Regions from separate parts of the Homo sapiens genome. Here region 2 is linked to region 1. Evidence: fine-mapped expression QTL. A gene starts in region 1. The other region holds a variant in brackets. All regions are shown on one strand. Distances are between the middles of the regions.

Region 1 (8,332 bases):
AAAATCTGGTCCTGGTTAAGTCACTAACTCACCACTAACAAGCCTCCTCGTCGGGCCTGTTTCCTCAACTGCAAAACAGAGTTGTACGTCCCAAAGCCCCTGAGCTCCTAGGTGGCATCCTTCCACTACCGACTTCCCCTAAGAGGGGCCACAGGGACAGGAAGATGGTGTGTTCGAAGCGGGTTATTTGTGGTTTTTCTTAGTGCAAATAGATGCTCATCGCTGAGTGATGGGCAAGCAGCGAGGCCTTTCTGATTTTCATCCCTCTTGCCAAAACTTTGGAGGTTGTATGCCATCCCCATTGGAGGGTGCCCTCCTTCTGTCAGTCCTAGCATCTGGTCAGGGTACCGCCGCCCGGGAGGTGGAACGGCGAGCCCACCGCCCATGGCCGCGAACTCGATCTCAGCCCACCGCTAGGTGGCAGGCCAGCCCGTCCGAGAATCGCCGCGCGGCCGCAGCTTCCACACCGATCCCTACCCGCCCCTCTTTATTTTCTGTCTGGTGGGGGCGAGGGTTGGGGGTGTGATTGCCTCTAAAAGCAAAGCTAGAAAACATTTAATTTAGTGTATGTAATTCCGTTCCTCCCGATGCTCCCGCCTCTAGCAACCACAACGCGGTATCTGGAGCTGGTTTCATGTATCATAAGTTGATTTCTCCCCCAGCCTCCGAAAAGCTTTATGTACTGGGAAGGGAAAGAAGGTGCACTTGTCTTCAAAAGGCAGAATGGCACTCGACAGTATTGGCAGAGATTCTTGCCAAACACTGGTCATCCAGCAAAGAAAGTCGGGAATAAACTCCTGATCTTCTCGGAGGAAAGGGGCGCTGGGGGCCGAGTGCTGGATCCCACTCAGGCTCACTGCGCCTGGCAAAGCGGGGGAGTGGGGAGTCGGGTATGGTCTTTTGGTGAAGTTGTGGGTCTCGGAGTGGACATCGGGAGGGTTGGGAGGGGCCGTTCCTGGTTTCCACTGGGGCAAAGAGAAACCAGCCAGTTCTGCCACCACGCTGCACCCTCGCTGTGCTCGCGGCGGCAGCGGCGGTCCCACTTGTTGCGCAGTGCTGGAAACCGGCACGCGCCATTCGATGTTGATTCACAGAGGGCTACAGACCAGCCTACCATTGCTCCACGCCATCCACAAACCTCCTCAACACACCCCCTACACATACGTCCTGCCACCGCCGGCAAAACTACAGCATTTCCAGCCACTATGGTGTTTTACACCAAAACATCCCTCACTATCTCGGTATCAGACAGGCAGCAGAATTAAGATGCCCTGAGAAGTCAATCCAAGGGGAAGGCCGGGCTACCTCCGCCTGGAGAACTCTTCTACTTAAAATCAACCAGGCACCCTCCCCCCACCAAAAAAAAAAACCTTAGAACCACGTTGCCTATTATAACACCATCCTAGTTGGAAAGCAACATTTTTCTTCCCTACTTGATAAACTTCAAAGTCCTTTTTATCCGTTAGTTTTATCTCCCCTATTTTTTTTAAATCTCTGGGGGAAAAATGTTTCATAAGTTCACTTCCCAATATTTTTCAAAAATTGACTTTTGCCAATAGTTTCACCCACCGAGGGGTGGCGCTGCTGCACCGCCTCCTCTATATCTCTTAAGTTTTTCACAACAAAGTGGGTTGTGAGTGTCATTACCCTGTAGGGGATAGAGGGAAGGAAGGGTTTTGACATCTAGCCGTGGCTACCATTTACTCAACCAATAACTGGAACTCTTCAAGGGCTCAGCAAACGACAACTTAAGCATTTAGAGTCCCATCCCTATCCACCAAACCCAGAATAAGTTAGTCTTTTCAAGAAAGCATTGGTATAAAACCCTTCAAAACTGAAAAGAAGAAAGGGGCAATTGGAGAATTCCCACTTTTTCTGGCTGTCTCCTTCAAGTCGCCCAGTTTTTATGAACAGCATCTAGCCTTACTGTCACTATCAACAACCCTTAAAACTAGCCAATGCTTCGGCCTCTAGTATTGGAAAGTCTTCCAAATAGGATACTGGAAACTTCTATTTATAAGCTTGGGGTGGCGGGCGGGGCGGGGAGGTGGAGAGAGAGTTGCCATCTACAGGTTTCTATTTTGGCCTGAAGACTCAACTGCAGTCATTAGAGTAAGGGAATGCCCATCTCCTGGTACTTGTTCGCCATTTCCTCCTCCCCCAGAGACAAATATCTTTTCGTCTTTTTTAAAAAAGTATATATTTTAAAGCAAGAATGTGATTTCATCTCTCTTCTTTGAGCTCATGTTTGCTACCTCCAGGAATAGCGTGTGGACTAGGGCCAGATGAACTTCAACTTGGGCTGCAGATTTACGAGGTTCTGTTCTAGTGCCAAAGGCTCTTGGTAGTAAATAGTGAGCAAAATAGATACCTGTCTCCTGATGGATCTTGCCGCCCCCTCTTTTTTTTTTTAAGTTATTTATTAAAACCACACACACCTTGCAAAGAAAAAGGGAAACTGGCAGTCTCTGTAGAGGAAGCCGGTGGCATCGCTCAGAGCCACAAACTGTATTTCTAAACAGCCCTTTCCCTGGTTCCCTCTCTCCTGCCCCACTTTTTTTAAAATCCAGACTGTAAAAAACACATCTACTGACACTCACTTTACTTTAAAAAAAGAAGAGAAAAAGTAAAGCGTTACAAGACTTTCCTCCTGGAAACTATAAACTGAAAAAAAAATCCATAAAAGATTAAATCCTGGCGGGTTGTGGGGTGGCGGGGGCCGGCGGGGAGGGGGCGCGGAGTGGAGATTGGCTCTCTGAGGTGGTCAGGGGCCCTGTGACAGCTTGGGACTTTCAGCACCTGGTTTGGGGTCATTTATCTGCTCAACTGTCAGGACCCCCCACCCCCAAACCCCAGCCACCAACACAACCATCGTAGAAGGGAACACAACACAGAGGGTCTTTTTTCATTTTTTTAAAAAATCGGTTTGGTTGTGTTTTTGTTTTCCATGGGGGAGCTTTAAAACTCATTATTGCAACACTAGTTCCATTTTTCGCCAGGGTTCCAATAACACGGCATCATAAAGGCAACGCAACCCACAGTTCTCAAGACATTTACCACGGTCACTACATCCGGCAGCGGGGTGGCCCCTAGCTCCTGCTGCCCCCCCGCCCTTTCTCCCCGCCCGCCCCCGGAGCTCAGCCGATTTCTGAGGCTCCAACTCTACCCACTCCCTCCCCGGGCCGCCGCCGCCGCGCCTTCCCCCATTCTTACTCCCTCGAGGAGAGCCACAGGTTGCAAATCCAACCAACCTCGCAATCTATTTTTGCAAAATCACTCACAAAGATCTCCCTTTCGCGCCCGCGCCCGCTCCTCCCGCGCCGGGTCCCCTCAGCCACGGCCACAAAGTGCCCTTCTCTCCTCCTGAGTCTTGCACATAAGGAACGCGGGCTGGGGCTCTGTTCGTCTTTCTCCTCGCCCAAGGTAAGGACCTCGGGAATCTGAAGCCTGGCGTCCACTACGCTCAGGCCCGCAGTTCCCTTTTTACAGAGCTTGCACCATGGGAAAAAATAAAATAAAATTTAGGAAAGGGAGGCAACAGCCATTGGGAGCCAACACAGAGTCACGCAGCGCCCAAAATACAAACACCGCAGCGGCCAGAAATCCCGCCACCTTTCTCGTTCTCCCAGGCTGTCCTGTCGAGGTTCCCTGAGTCCCCCCGCACACTGAAAGGCATCGCAGGTGCAGTGCGCACCCCTTTCCCACCCACCCCAAGAAGCCCTGTCCCGCCATCAGTCTCTCTCCTCGGGATGAGCAGGGAGAGCGCGCGGAGGTTCCCGACTCCCTCGACTACAACCAAGAAAGAATAATTTTCAAAGTGTTCAACATCCCCGCCCCCAAGCTCCCCAAAACACAGGGGCAGGGAACACCAAAACACTCGGCTCTCATTAGGAAGATCACGGCTCTGAAAGGAAATAGTAGACACGATACTTCATCTCATCTGGATTTATGACCAAAAAAACAAAAACAAAAACCCAAAGAGTTCGCTTGCATTTTTTCCTTCCAAATCTCGGTTCGGCTCGAAGGCAGGGAATCTAAAAGACCGAGGCCGATGGAAGAGAGCCAGCGGGGCGAGCGAGCGGGCAGCCTCCCTTTTTGCCTCCCGGAGTTACCCAGAAGGACAGGGGAAGGGAAGGAAGAAGAGGCGAGGAAAAAGAGGAGGGAGGGAAGCGGAGGCCAGGAGCGACGGAGCAAGGAAAGCAGTTTGCAAGCGAGAAAAGAGGGAAAAAACACAGCCGCACGAATCCAGAGAGATCACAAGCCGTACGCAAGCAGCAGCAGAAAGAGCGAGAGCGCGAGCGCGCGTCCTCTCCGCGGTCTGGGGCCAGACAGCCCCCAGACTAGCCCGAATCACCCCCCAAGCACTGTCTCGTCCTCTCTGCTCCGGCCGCCCCCTAATTCCCCTCCTTCCTCTCCTCCACCTCCTTTCCAAAAACCAAAACAACACAAGGGAGGGTGGCAAAAGCCTCCCCAAACCGGCCGATTCACTCAAAGACAACAATAATAATAATAAATACATAACAATCTATATCCTATGGTGGGAGAGACGTGGGACTAATCTTCGGCATTTATTTTAACACCTGACAGCTAGAATAAATAAATATATACATTTATATCAATAGATACACATAGAAAACTTGGAGCCAAAGCATTTGGCAAGAGCGGAAAAAAAAAGAATTAAAAGGTAAAATAATGATCATGAGCAGCGGCGGCGGCAGCGGCACCAGCGGCAACAGCGGCGGCGGCGGCAGTAGCAGCAGCAGCGGCGGCAGCAACAGCAATAATCACCTGGTGTCCGGCCTTTCCTAGAAACTTCTTGCATCACCACTTCTAAGAACCCCAGTTCTAAGAATCAACAGAGCTCAATTCTCGGAATTTGAGCTTCGGACTTTACCACTGCTACGTGGCAGGGGAGGACTTGGTGTCAGCTCTCCGAGATTTTTACTGCCCCTGGCCAACCAAAAGCCCTCAAAGCCACAAGATTTTTTCACTGGCCGGCATATTTCGAGGTCCTCATAAGCAGAGCGTCTCGGATTTGGAGGTTCCGGTTCGAGGCTCGAGGGGCCTGAAGGTGGCTCTCCCTCCCCGGGCCCAAGACGATGGTATGGCCTGCTCCGCCACCATCACGTGGGCTCCTCCTCTGTGACGTCGGCGCCTTCGCTGTAGCAAAGCTCGGCCTCTGGAATTCTGAGAACTAATTTGCTATTCGGTGACATAAGAGGGGGAGTGCGCTTTGCTTTCCCGGGGTCTGGGGCTAATTCCTTCTTTCTTACCCATAAACTCAGCAGATCGAGCTAAATGCACAAAAGGGAGCGAGAGGTTTGAACCACTGGGAAAAGTATGTTATATATATAGTAGGGTTAGAGAGGCGAGTAAGAGAAAAATAAAATAAAATAAACATCACAGCTCTTTCCAACTAGAATATTAGGCACCACGAGAAAAATATTTGCCAAGCAGTTTTCGGTGGGTTCATTTGCTTTATTTTTATTTAGGACAGGGGTTTTTGCTGTTGTTCTGGGTTTTTTTCTTTCTGGTGTGGTGGCTTGGGATTTTTGGTTTCTGTATTTTGATGGTTTATGGATTTTTGCTTCTGATTTTTTGCCTTTTGCAAGTTTGTGGTGTTACGTAAATCACAGGATCGGCATCGGTTGGATTTTTTTGTACGTGCCTTTTCTTTCCCTATCTAATCCCTCAAGCGTTTTAAAGATGTATTATTTCAATACTAATACTATTGAAAGAAGCTTAAATTTTTGGCCATATGTAACAATCCCAGCCCCCACTTTTTTTTTTTTTTTTTCCTTTGGTGCAATTTTCTTTTTCCCCCTTGGACTTTTGCTGAAGTGTGTCTCTCCTGCACTTCAGAGAAATGTTCAAAGGATTTGTTTTGGTTTGGTTTGTTTCTTTCCAGGACAGCAAGTGGTGGGTTTAATCTGTTATTGTTGACTCTTGGGAAATTTCTTGTTGCAAGAAACGTGTGTGTGGGGGGGAGGGTGGGGGTGGCGGGGTGGTATGTGTGTGTTTTCTACAAAATTCTGTGAGCCAAATACCTGTTTGTGTTTTGTTTTCTCTTAAGGTCTTGAGATTTTTGTTTTCGAGGCTCGTTTCAAGGTCGTTGTAAAAAAATCTCTTCAGTCTGTGTTTAAGAGATCAGCCGGAGGGAATTCTAAAGGCCTGCCGTGCCAGTATCACAGATACTGCCTGTATTTAGAACAGACTGCCACAACTACAATGCACTACACGCAGCACAGTCTTCTTAGCTTTGAAGCTGAGTTGGGGGGTGGGGTGGGGGGGGGGTAGAGAAGAAGGAGAAATTCTTTCCTTCTCTTTTTCTCTATTACTTTCTTTTTAAAGGCAATTGCAGTGCAGAATCATTTCATTGTGGGTCCTAGTTTGTTTGTTCAGAGCTGCTAGTTTCCTTATTTAAATGTTGGTTCGGGTTTTTTCCCCTCCTACTCATCCCTGAATAAGGGAGACTCTTGTTTCTTTTATGTCTCTCTCTTAAAAGAAGGGTGTGAGGGGAAAATAATATTTCAGATTCCTCAAGAATTAGCCCAAAATGTTTGGACCAGAAGCAGCTTTCAAAGGTCAGGCTGTTCTGAGCCTTGGCTATGAGAGTCCTTCAAGCGACTTATTAAATTACAGATGAATTCTTAAAGCTTCCACAAAATCTCGTCACTTGTTAATTTCTAATAAAGATATGTCTAAAATAATCTACCTATCTCAACCCAAAATTTGGGTTTATAATGGAGGAGTGATCAGAGCTGTGAAAGATTGCTGTTTGCTGGGATATTTGGAAAATCTCTTTCATTGACAGTCCCGTAAGAAGTTCCATCTATCACCGAAAATGTTGTTGGCAATGCACCCCCCTACCCCACAACACACACACATTTTTAAAGGCTGTATTTTAGGTTTTAAAACCCAGAAAGGTGCAAAGAGGTTGATTATTTTCCACAAGGGCTGGAGCTTAGGAAATATGCGTTAAAGTGTCTGTCCCTGTGAAATCTGAATATTTTAATACTTATTGACAGATGGATTACTGCAGCCTCTGCAGAAAAGCCTGTCTTGTGAACGGTTTTTGAAAAATATACATAGGCCTAATCCTGTCACTGTTGTTGAAATGTACGTTTTACCCCCAAAGACACATGATATTGTCAAGTTCAGATTTATTCTGCCAGAAGGCAGACTATCTGCTTTTTCATTTGAGTCCCCTTCCTTCTCATTTTCAAAGAAATTAAAATGAATCCCGCTGGATGCAAAATGACACCCCGATTTTGTGGAAGGGATTTTCTTTGTGTGTTTATATGTGTAATTTTTTCTTTTATGAGCAATTAGCACTTTAGGATTTCTCAGACGTATCTATATGGTTTGGAATGTGAATTGTATGGCTCTGCCTTACTATTGGGCCCTCAAAAGATTATTTTTATGATTTTTGGTCACTTTTTTCTTTGTCAAAACTGCCATTCAGCCTCATCCACCGCCCCCCTCAACCTGAAACACAGCTTGTCCCTCCTGTGTTCCCTTTGCCACTCCACTCTTAGCCCCATGGGGGCGCTGCAGAGCAAAGGGAAATCTGCTCTCTAAGGCAGTAGTAGAACCAGCCAGAGTGGGGGCTGGGAAGGAATTCACCCTTCTCATACCTCAGCCCTCTTTAATTCTCTGCAGTGAGCCCCTAGAGGGAGAACCCACCAGGGCTGGTTCATATATAATTAACCTCATCACCAGGGACCTCAAATCTTCCCAGCATATTATTTCTGGGACCAAGTGCCAGAGTGCCACATTTTCCTACTGCTTTTTGCCAAATCAATGTGTTTACACTGAAAGAAATTGACCAGAACAGAAGACCAGTTAGAAAGAAAGAGAAAATCATTATTGAAAATTTTCTAAAGATAGGCACTTACTTTTCGGTGAGTCTCTTTTACTTTGAACTGAATGAATGGTGAGGAAAATTGTGCACCCGCCTCTCAATCTCTTTTCAATTCCTAGGAAAGTAACTTTGTCAAATATTATACCAGTTGAATTTCTTCCAGAATGTCATTTCTTCTTTCATTCTTGACCTCTCCTCAGTATCCAGTTGGCATCACTATGTGGGCCTCCCTCACTCCCGCAGTGCCGTGTTACAGGATTAAAGAAAGGGCTGACTTGAACGTATTCTGATTCTTTTAAATCATCCTTAAGAAGCTCTAAAGAGTGATTCCATGTCTGGGGTCGTATGAATAATTCCTGCAGACTTCGGGGCACTACATTTCAACTAGTCCCATGATTTAATGGTTACTGGCTGCTAATACTCAGTAGAGGACCAGGCCAACCTCTTTGCCTCATGGACTGGGCATAA
Region 2 (8,332 bases), 220 kb after region 1:
TGAGGCTGAGAGTGGAGGGAGATGATGCTGAACAGGCAGTTGGGACCAGATCATGTAGGGTTTTATAGCTCATGGTAAGAGGGTTTAGCAAAGAGATAAACTTATAATTTATGGCTTTAGAAAGATCAGTCTGGCTACTGCATGAAGAGCTGACTGTAGAGGGAAAAAGTGTGGGCAGGAAAAACATGATAATAGCTTGGAATAAGATAGTCAGCAGTGCAGATGGTGAGAAATAGTCTAATTTGACATATATTTTAGACGTAAAGTCAATAGGACTTGCTGAGAGATTACACATAGGGTTTCAGGGAAATAAAGAATATTAGAATGACTCAATTATTTGCGTTGAACGAATAGCTAGGAGGCCAGGTAGCACTTACTGTGATAGGGAAGACTTGAGGGGAAGGAATTCGGGGTAGAGAAAGACTAAATCAATAGTTTGGTTTGGGTCACAGTTTGTGTGAAGTGCTTTTTACATATACAAGTAGAGTTATGGAGTCTGAAGCTCAAGGGAGAAGTCAGTTAGAGATAGAGATTTGAAGTTTTCTGCGTATAAATGGTATTTTAAAGCCAGGGGACTCAATGAGTTCATCCAAGAAGAGTACAGACAGAATAGAGATAAGAACCCCAGAGCACGCCAAAATCTGATGTCGAGGAGAAACAGCCAGACAAGGAGACAGAAAGGTAAGGACAAACCAGGTGAGTGTGGGATCACAAAGCCTAGAGAAGAAAGTGTTTAAAGAAGTATGAAGGATTGACCATGTCCAATTCAGCTCAATAGTTCAGTTAGCTGAATACACTTCGACCTTGGAAATATGTAGGTCATTGGTGACTCTGATAAAGGCTGTTTAAGTGGAGTGATATAGAGTCTGAAGAAAATTAGAGCAGAGTTGAGGAGAGAAAGGGAGCTAAAGAAGTGGAGACAGGAAATGTAGATCTTACTTTTAAAGGTCTTTTTGTGAAGGCATTAAAGAAAGGGGGTGGTAGTTAAAGGGACATGTAGGGCCAAGGGAGAGCTGGGTTTTTTTTTATTTTTAGTAGTTGTTATAAAGGCATATTTGTATGCTGATGGGTTAGATGTAAAGGAACATCAGAATTTGATGTTGCAAGAGAGAAGCATAGGAAAGGAGATGGGATACAGAGGACAAATGGAAGGGTTGGCCTTAGAAACTATGCCACTTCCTCCACTATAATAAGAGGGAGGTAGTGTATGTGGGCACAGATGCAGGTGGGTTAAGGAAAAATGCAATAACTCTCCTCTGATAGCAAAAAGGAAGGTCATAATCCCAGGGCATGGGATGTGTAGAGCATAGTGGATATTCAAGTAGGGAGCTAAAGGTTTGAAAGAGTTGACCCAGAAACCAAAAAGTGAATTTGCTAAATGTATCATAGGATCCTCTGGCACGGTCCGTTTCAGGTTTGTGATCACAAATTTAAAGTGAACTGATCAGCATGGTTTACAATGTTCTTAACAACATTCCACTGTTTGGATGCAAGCAAAGGAGGAATTAGAGGATATACATTTCACCAGGATTGCAGTTTTGCCAGGTACGATAAAGGGGAAGGCAGCAGAGGAATGGGGGGTATTGGAAGGAGAGAGTTTATGGCACAGAGTAGAAGGAGTCAAGGTTGGAATAAGGTTTAAGGCTACCCAGTAACACAACATCACTGGGCTCCACACATATCCAAAGTGTCTGCCTGGACCCATCGGTATGCCAAGAATTTTCCTTCCCTCCAAAAAGGAAGCTCACTACTGACTTCACCTGGTGCCCGCCACATCTAGAATCCCCCTTCAGGGTTTTGCAGCCAATTAGGAACTGAGTGCTGGGCACCAAACTGGGTAGAAGAGTCACTCCTGAGCGCACACACACTTGCAGTGGAGTCTCAACACTTTATTTAGACCTAAAAGGCTGTGTGGCTGGCAGGAAAATACCCTACACATGCAGAGAGAAGACCTGGGTTTCATCAGTTTCTGTGGCTTTTACCAAATGAGAAAGTTTTTTTCATATCCTGAGCCTCTGTTCCCTCTCATCATAACTCTGGCCTGGCTTAAATTATAGCTGCTTATACAGATCTGATGAGATGGTGAATGTACAACCATTTTCAAGTGTAAAGAATTATGGAGATGTGAGAAATTACATTGTTATTATGACTCGGCAAGGGGGTACCAAATGCAAATCTAAGGCATTTACTGGTGTGAGATTGATTTCAAATGTCAGCTAATATAGGTCACCATGGCTTATAAGCAATTTGCCTTAAAATTAGAAACTTATGAAATGCTCAAGATGAAAGGCAGTACATTTCAAAACAGAGGCAATGGGAAGCAAATTTCTCTCTTTTTTGTGCAACATCCTATGAACCCACGGTTCTCACAGGCCCAGGATATTGCTGCAGTTGGCAGCCTGGTGTATTTTGAACAGCACAGTGCTGATCCCTGGGTAACTCTGTAATCCTGAGTGAGTCACTTTACCTTTGGAGGCCTCAATCGCCTTCTCTGTAAGGTGGGAAGAATTGTACTCCCTCCTGTTCCACTTACAGGGTATCAAGAAGATCATATTATTTTTAAAGGAAAAAAAGAACTGAGAAATACTCTTGGTTACTCTGCAAAGAGGTTGGTGTAAATGTGAAGTGTCACTATTATTAAGTGTGAGGCAATCTTTCCCACCCGCATCATGTCCCAGCATTACAATGTGAGCTGTGTGACAGGCTATTTTTAAATTCCCATCTCTGGAAGCATATGGTCCTGCACAGTGCCAAAAAGAGAAAAATGACCTGCTTCAGTTTGTTTGCTTGTTTGTTTTGATCTGATGGAACATTTTCTATGATCCTGTTAAAGGTTGTTCTTTCTACTTTAAACTTTTAAGGTGAGTGCTAAAGATTTTCTATAGCATAGTCTGAAACACACCGTGGCACTACAACTTGCTTAGACAATGATAAGAGGTCATCCCAGGGCGATGGTGTATTTATACAAATCTGCATTTTTTGTGTATCATCTAAGACTTTTCAAAAATATAGTTTTTTTATTTGTTAACAATTTTTATGCTTTTGTTCTCTAATTTTGGGTAGTTTTGTTTGTTCAGTAGCAGCATTTTTAGGTAAATTTTTTTTTGCAAATAGTAGTGCATTTATTTTATAAAATAAAGCGATTCCTTTTCTTTAATTTTCTTTAATGTTACCTACATAAAAAGAAGTTGTTTCAAAGTTATCCTGATTGTTTATTGTCATTTCTTTTATGTTTTATTAATATCAATTGCTATTGACTGAAGCCCTTTCCCATGACAAATATACAGTATATCTGTTATAAACTTCATTTTTGCTGCCCCCTTGACCTGACCTAACTTTACCTCCTCTCTTGTGCTATTTGGCAAGACTATCCTGAATCTTGTCAAACTTCCCACTCATTGAATTTGATTTCTGACACCAAATTCCTGGAAAGATATCTATCTGATCAGTTGGAAAAGAAAAGAGATAAAAA[C/T]ACCTATTTCACAAGTTTCACGGGACCTGACCTTTGCGCAAGAGCAAAAAATTTCCCCAGTTGAGGTAAATAAGGTTCCCACAAGCTTTTTTTCCTTTTTTCTTTTTCTTTAAGGTCCAGGATTCAACTCTCTTGTCTTTGGGTCAAGTGATAGCTAAAACTAGAATTGATGAAGTTTCATGGCATTTAACCAATGAAAAAGGTAATTTAAAAGGAGGGTGCTAAGGAAAACTCAGAAAGAAAGACAGGGCCTGCATCTTCAGCTAAATGATGAAATCAAGAACACGTAAGAGGAGTTTGAAGTGTTCTGTGTGATCCTGGGGGCCAATAAGAAAGCCAATTGAGGAAATTCACAAAAGCGCAAAATTAAAAAAAAATTATGAAGTTACAGACATATCCAACATTGGGAAGCTCTTCCTTAAGCAGCGGTGACAAAACTCTCCAGCAGTCATGCCGTACCCATAAAGACCTTCTTCAGGCCAGGGCACAGTGGCTCACATCTGTAATCCCGGAACTTTGGGAGGCTGAGGTGGGTGGATTGCTTGAGGTCAGGAGTTCGAGACCAGCATGGCCCACATGGTGAAACCCTGTCTCTACTAAAAATACAAAAATTAGCCGGGTGTGGCGGTGTGCGCCTGTAGTCCCAGCTATGTCAGGAAGTCGAGGCACGAGAATTGCTTGAACCTAGGAGGTGGAGGTTGCAGTGGGCCGATCATGCCACTGCACTCCAGCCTGGGCAACAGGGTGAGACCCTGTCTCAAAAAAAAGACCTTCATCTTCTCTGTCTACTTTATCACCTGGCATCGTCTCACCTCCTCCAACTTCTCCACACCATTAATGATCTCCCCCTCCTCTGTACTTCTAGGGGATTCAGAGGCTCTGGGCATCATTTAAATAGTAAGTACTTCACAGACTTGAGGTGTTACATATCTGTTTTTAGGGGATGTGTCTTGGTCTCCCAACAATGAGTTGTAAGTTCCTGGAGGGTAGGGACCATGTCTCACATTTCTTTTGAACTCCCTTGGTGCTAGCACATTGTTGGGCACAGAAGAGTAGCAACACTCCTTCACATTCATGGCAGGCTTTAGCGTTTACAAAGCACCTCCACCTGCCATTCATGCAATGTTCCCAACAACTAGGTGTTGTCCGCAAGGCAGATAATGAATAGTATCTGATGGGTGAGGAAACTGAGGTTCAAAGAGCTCATTACACCTGCAAGTGCAACAGAATTTATAGTCCAGTGCTCTCCCAGTAATAACCATTAGATGAGTAGATAAAGAACAGATCTTGCAGTTCAAAAATGTGTGGGTAGCCAAAGGGAAGTGGCCACGTATTCGGCTACATGCCCTGTCATGCTGATGTAGATTGACTTCCAATACAGGCTAGAGAATTCTCTTTGTATGGATGGACTCAGTCTGAGTGACACATGGTCCATGTCTCTTTGACTCTGGCCATGTTCTGCAAATGAGATGAGATTCCAATAAGAACCAAGAACGTTTTGGGATGTGTTTCTATGGAAGCCTAGATAGAGATCAGTAATCTCAGACATCACTCTGGGCAACCTCTGGGCCTGTCCATCTTCAGGCATCTAGAAATCTGTGCCCAAGGCAGACAGAAAAGACTGGGTCCTGGAAGAAGCCTCAGGCACCAATTGGACCTCAGTGTTCTTCACTTCTTTAACTGCTAAATTCACCCAATCACATTTAAATAAATTTTATAAGACTTTGAAAATGTGTTTCTGTTCCTCTAGAAATTACCTCTAAATTTTCTAGTATAAACGTCTGCCAGCTTTGTTCAGCCAAGTTCCTTTCCCCCTCTTTTCTTTGACAATGAAAGCAGCTTTGGTGCCAACGCTCAGAACTGGCAGGTGTTTGATGACACATGTTCTGTGATAAATGTTTATTACATAAGTTCATTCAAGCTAGCTACCAGAGCTTTTGAGGCATCATTGCTACTTATCATAAAATTGTCCTTGAAAACCAGAAGCCCAATATATTCCCAAAAGCTCTATTTTTTTTTCTTTCTTCTTTTAGGTTCTCTGTGTTCTATCGACGTCTGGTGCAATGGAGAAGTCAGGAGATGGTACTTGAATCCTGACTCTGTCACAAGCTGGCTGTGTGACCCTGGGAAAGCCACTTCTGTACTCTGAGCCTAGTTGCTCATTTGTAAAATGAGGAGGTGGAAGCTGTGATTGCCAGGGTCTCTCTAATTTCTGACGTATCCCGATAAGAGGACAAACTGGTGGGGAAAAAAAAAAACCAATTTCAGTCAAGCAGAAACACATGCTTGCCTTTCCTTACCCAGAATGTGCTTTACATAACCGAATTTGCTTCCTTTTTTACTGGCTTGCACTCCAGTAAGGAGGCAGGGGAGCAGCACGGCTGGCAGCAGCTTGGAGAGGGTGCAGTGTGCAGGGATGGATGTGGGGAGGGGATGCTGAGGGAGGCTTCGCTGACGAGTGAATGAGGCACAGGCACCATGAACTACTAGAGCTTTGTCACACTTCTTATTACTGTGATTATGTTATATTAGAATGAAAAGACCTGCAGGGTATTTAAAGTGCAAAAACCTAGAGAAGAACTATTAAGAAACTTCCAGTCCCATGATTATTCTAGATAAAGCATTCAGAAACTTTAGTTATGCAAATTAGATTCATTTTTGAAGAAAATACTTACATATTAAGAATTTTACGGCTGGGCGAGGTGGCTCACACCTGTAATCCCAGCACTTTGGGAGGCCGAGGAGGGGGTGAATCACCTAAGGTTAGGAGTTCGAGACCAGCCTGGCCAAAATGGTGAAACCCCATCTCTACTAAAAATGCAAAAATTAGCCGGGCATGGTAGCACGCACCTGTAGTCCCAGCTACTGGGAAGGCTGAGGCATGAGATTCACTTGAACCCAGCAGGCGGGGGTTGCAGTGAGCCAAGATCGTGGAACTGTCCTCCAGCCTGGGTGACAGAGCAAGACTCTGCCTCAAAACAAAAAAAAAAATTTAAAAATTATCAGCTTGATATTTTTTCCTCCAAAACTTTCAACTAGCCCATGCGGAAACATGTTGTAGGTCTTTTCATGCATTAACGTTTGTACCAAAAAAAGCTCACACACTGTTATTGTCTCCATTTTACAGGTGAGAAAACTGAGATGCTAGCAGGCCCAGCACCCTGTCAGAAGATTCAAATCACAGTTGGCAACGTTGAGAGTTAACCCAGATCCCCTTGCCTCCGGGTCTGGAACTCTCTGCTACTGTGCTCTAAGGCATTCTTCCACACTGCTCCACAGAGGGCTTTTCTTGGCCTCAGGCAGAGAGATGAGTAATTATCTGTAAACCGGAATCAGGGTTTATCTCTCTGCTGTCTAAAGTACTAATGTACAATCACAGACTGTCAGAGCAGTAAAGTTCCCTAGATATCATTTAAGTGTTTTTCCTCAGCTGAGTACCTCAGTGGTACTCTCTGGTGCTTTTGAACAAGTTAGTGGCAAAATCAGCACTGAAATCCCTTAACTCCCACTTTATACTATTTATGAGACTTGGTATTAAAAAACAAAGTGAAGCCAGGCATGGTGGCTCACGCCTATAATCCCAGCACTTTGGGAGGCTGAGGCAGGTGGATTGCTTGAGGCCAGTTCAAGACCAGCCTGGCCAACATGGCAAAACTCCATCTCTACTAAAAATACAAAATTTTCTGGGTATGGTGGCACACACCTGTAGTCCCAGCTACTTGGGGGGCTGAGGCAGGAGAAACACTTGAACCGGGAGGCAGAGGTTGCGGTGAGCTGAGATCATGCCACTGCACTCCAGCCTGGGTGACAAAGCAAGACTGTCTCAAAAAAATCAATCAATCAAACAACAACAACAAAACAAACTGATTTAGAAGATCAATCACTAAATAAATAGAGTATCAGGAATTATTTTTTTCAAGTTACTTAATAATCCTGCTGGCCAGGATTGGACAGAGTTAACTTTTGCCTCAATTTCTTCAATGACTTTCATTACCAACCTCACCAATATCATGTAGAGGGACTGAGGCAGAAGGAACTGTTACTGCCTATGAGTCATCCATTCTTGACCTTCAGCATGTTTTGAAAATGTGTTGTGAAATGCTTAACAATCAATAATTCCATCACCAGGCAGTATGAGGCTGGGAGTTATGCAACAGGCGGAACAGGGCATTACTGCTACATCATTCAGGAGACTCCAAATATCTGTTGTGCTCAGAACCCTCAGCAGGACCTAAAGACACAAAGTACCCATAAAAGTTATTTTTTTTTTAAAAAAAAAAACAAAGAGAAGATGGAAGACAGAGGAGAAGTGAAAGTAGACTTCTTTCCTTGCATTGGATCAGTAAAGTGGGACTAGCAGTTAAGTGTGGATACTCTCAAGCTAGCATGTCTGTTCTTTTCTGTCAATGGCTAAGTCACACTCCAATGTTACACTGCTGCTAGGCAACTCTTCTCTGCGCCCTAGACAGTGGCTTCATCTCCAGACATTGCAAGTGTCCTAGGTGAAGGTAGCTAGTACAAAGGAAAGGAGCACAGAACAAGGAGGTGAAGACCCAGTTCAAGTCCCTGGCTGCCACTTACAGGCCTATGACACTGAGAGTGGTCACATTACCTGTCAGATCTCCAGGCCCTTCTGTCCTACCAAGGGTAGATGACATCTGCCCAATAGATTATACCCAGTTCAGAAGTGATGAGGGATGTGAAAACACGTTACAAACTACACAAATGCAAGGGACTATTAGTAGAAACCCATGAATCTGATTTTGCAAGCTCAGATAAAAGGAGTCTCCCATTTAAAGATGGGCACTGGGGTATGACTTGTGGTTAGAGGCAAAATCAACGCCTGTGCCACGCAGGTGA

The links.
Region 2: its variant is fine-mapped to the expression of BCL6 in whole blood (TOPMed, PIP above 0.99).

Annotation. Positions count from the first base shown.
Region 1 is chr3:187,740,622-187,748,953 of GRCh38, forward strand. BCL6 (BCL6 transcription repressor) reads right to left here and starts at 4,847. Exons shown (of 10, transcript NM_001706.5): 1 at 4,789-4,847. It overlaps BCL6-AS1 (BCL6 antisense RNA 1), which reads left to right and starts at 3,048. Exons shown (of 2, transcript NR_173091.1): 1 at 3,048-3,423; 2 at 4,623-5,405. RefSeq lists enhancers at 568-1,069, 1,070-1,569, 3,960-4,485.
Region 2 is chr3:187,961,500-187,969,831 of GRCh38, forward strand. It overlaps LINC01991 (long intergenic non-protein coding RNA 1991), which reads right to left. Exons shown (of 3, transcript NR_135538.1): 2 at 5,230-5,710. Among named protein-coding and RNA genes, the nearest start is that of LINC01991, 11 kb to the right of the region's middle. The variant C/T (reference allele first, on the strand shown) is at 3,473.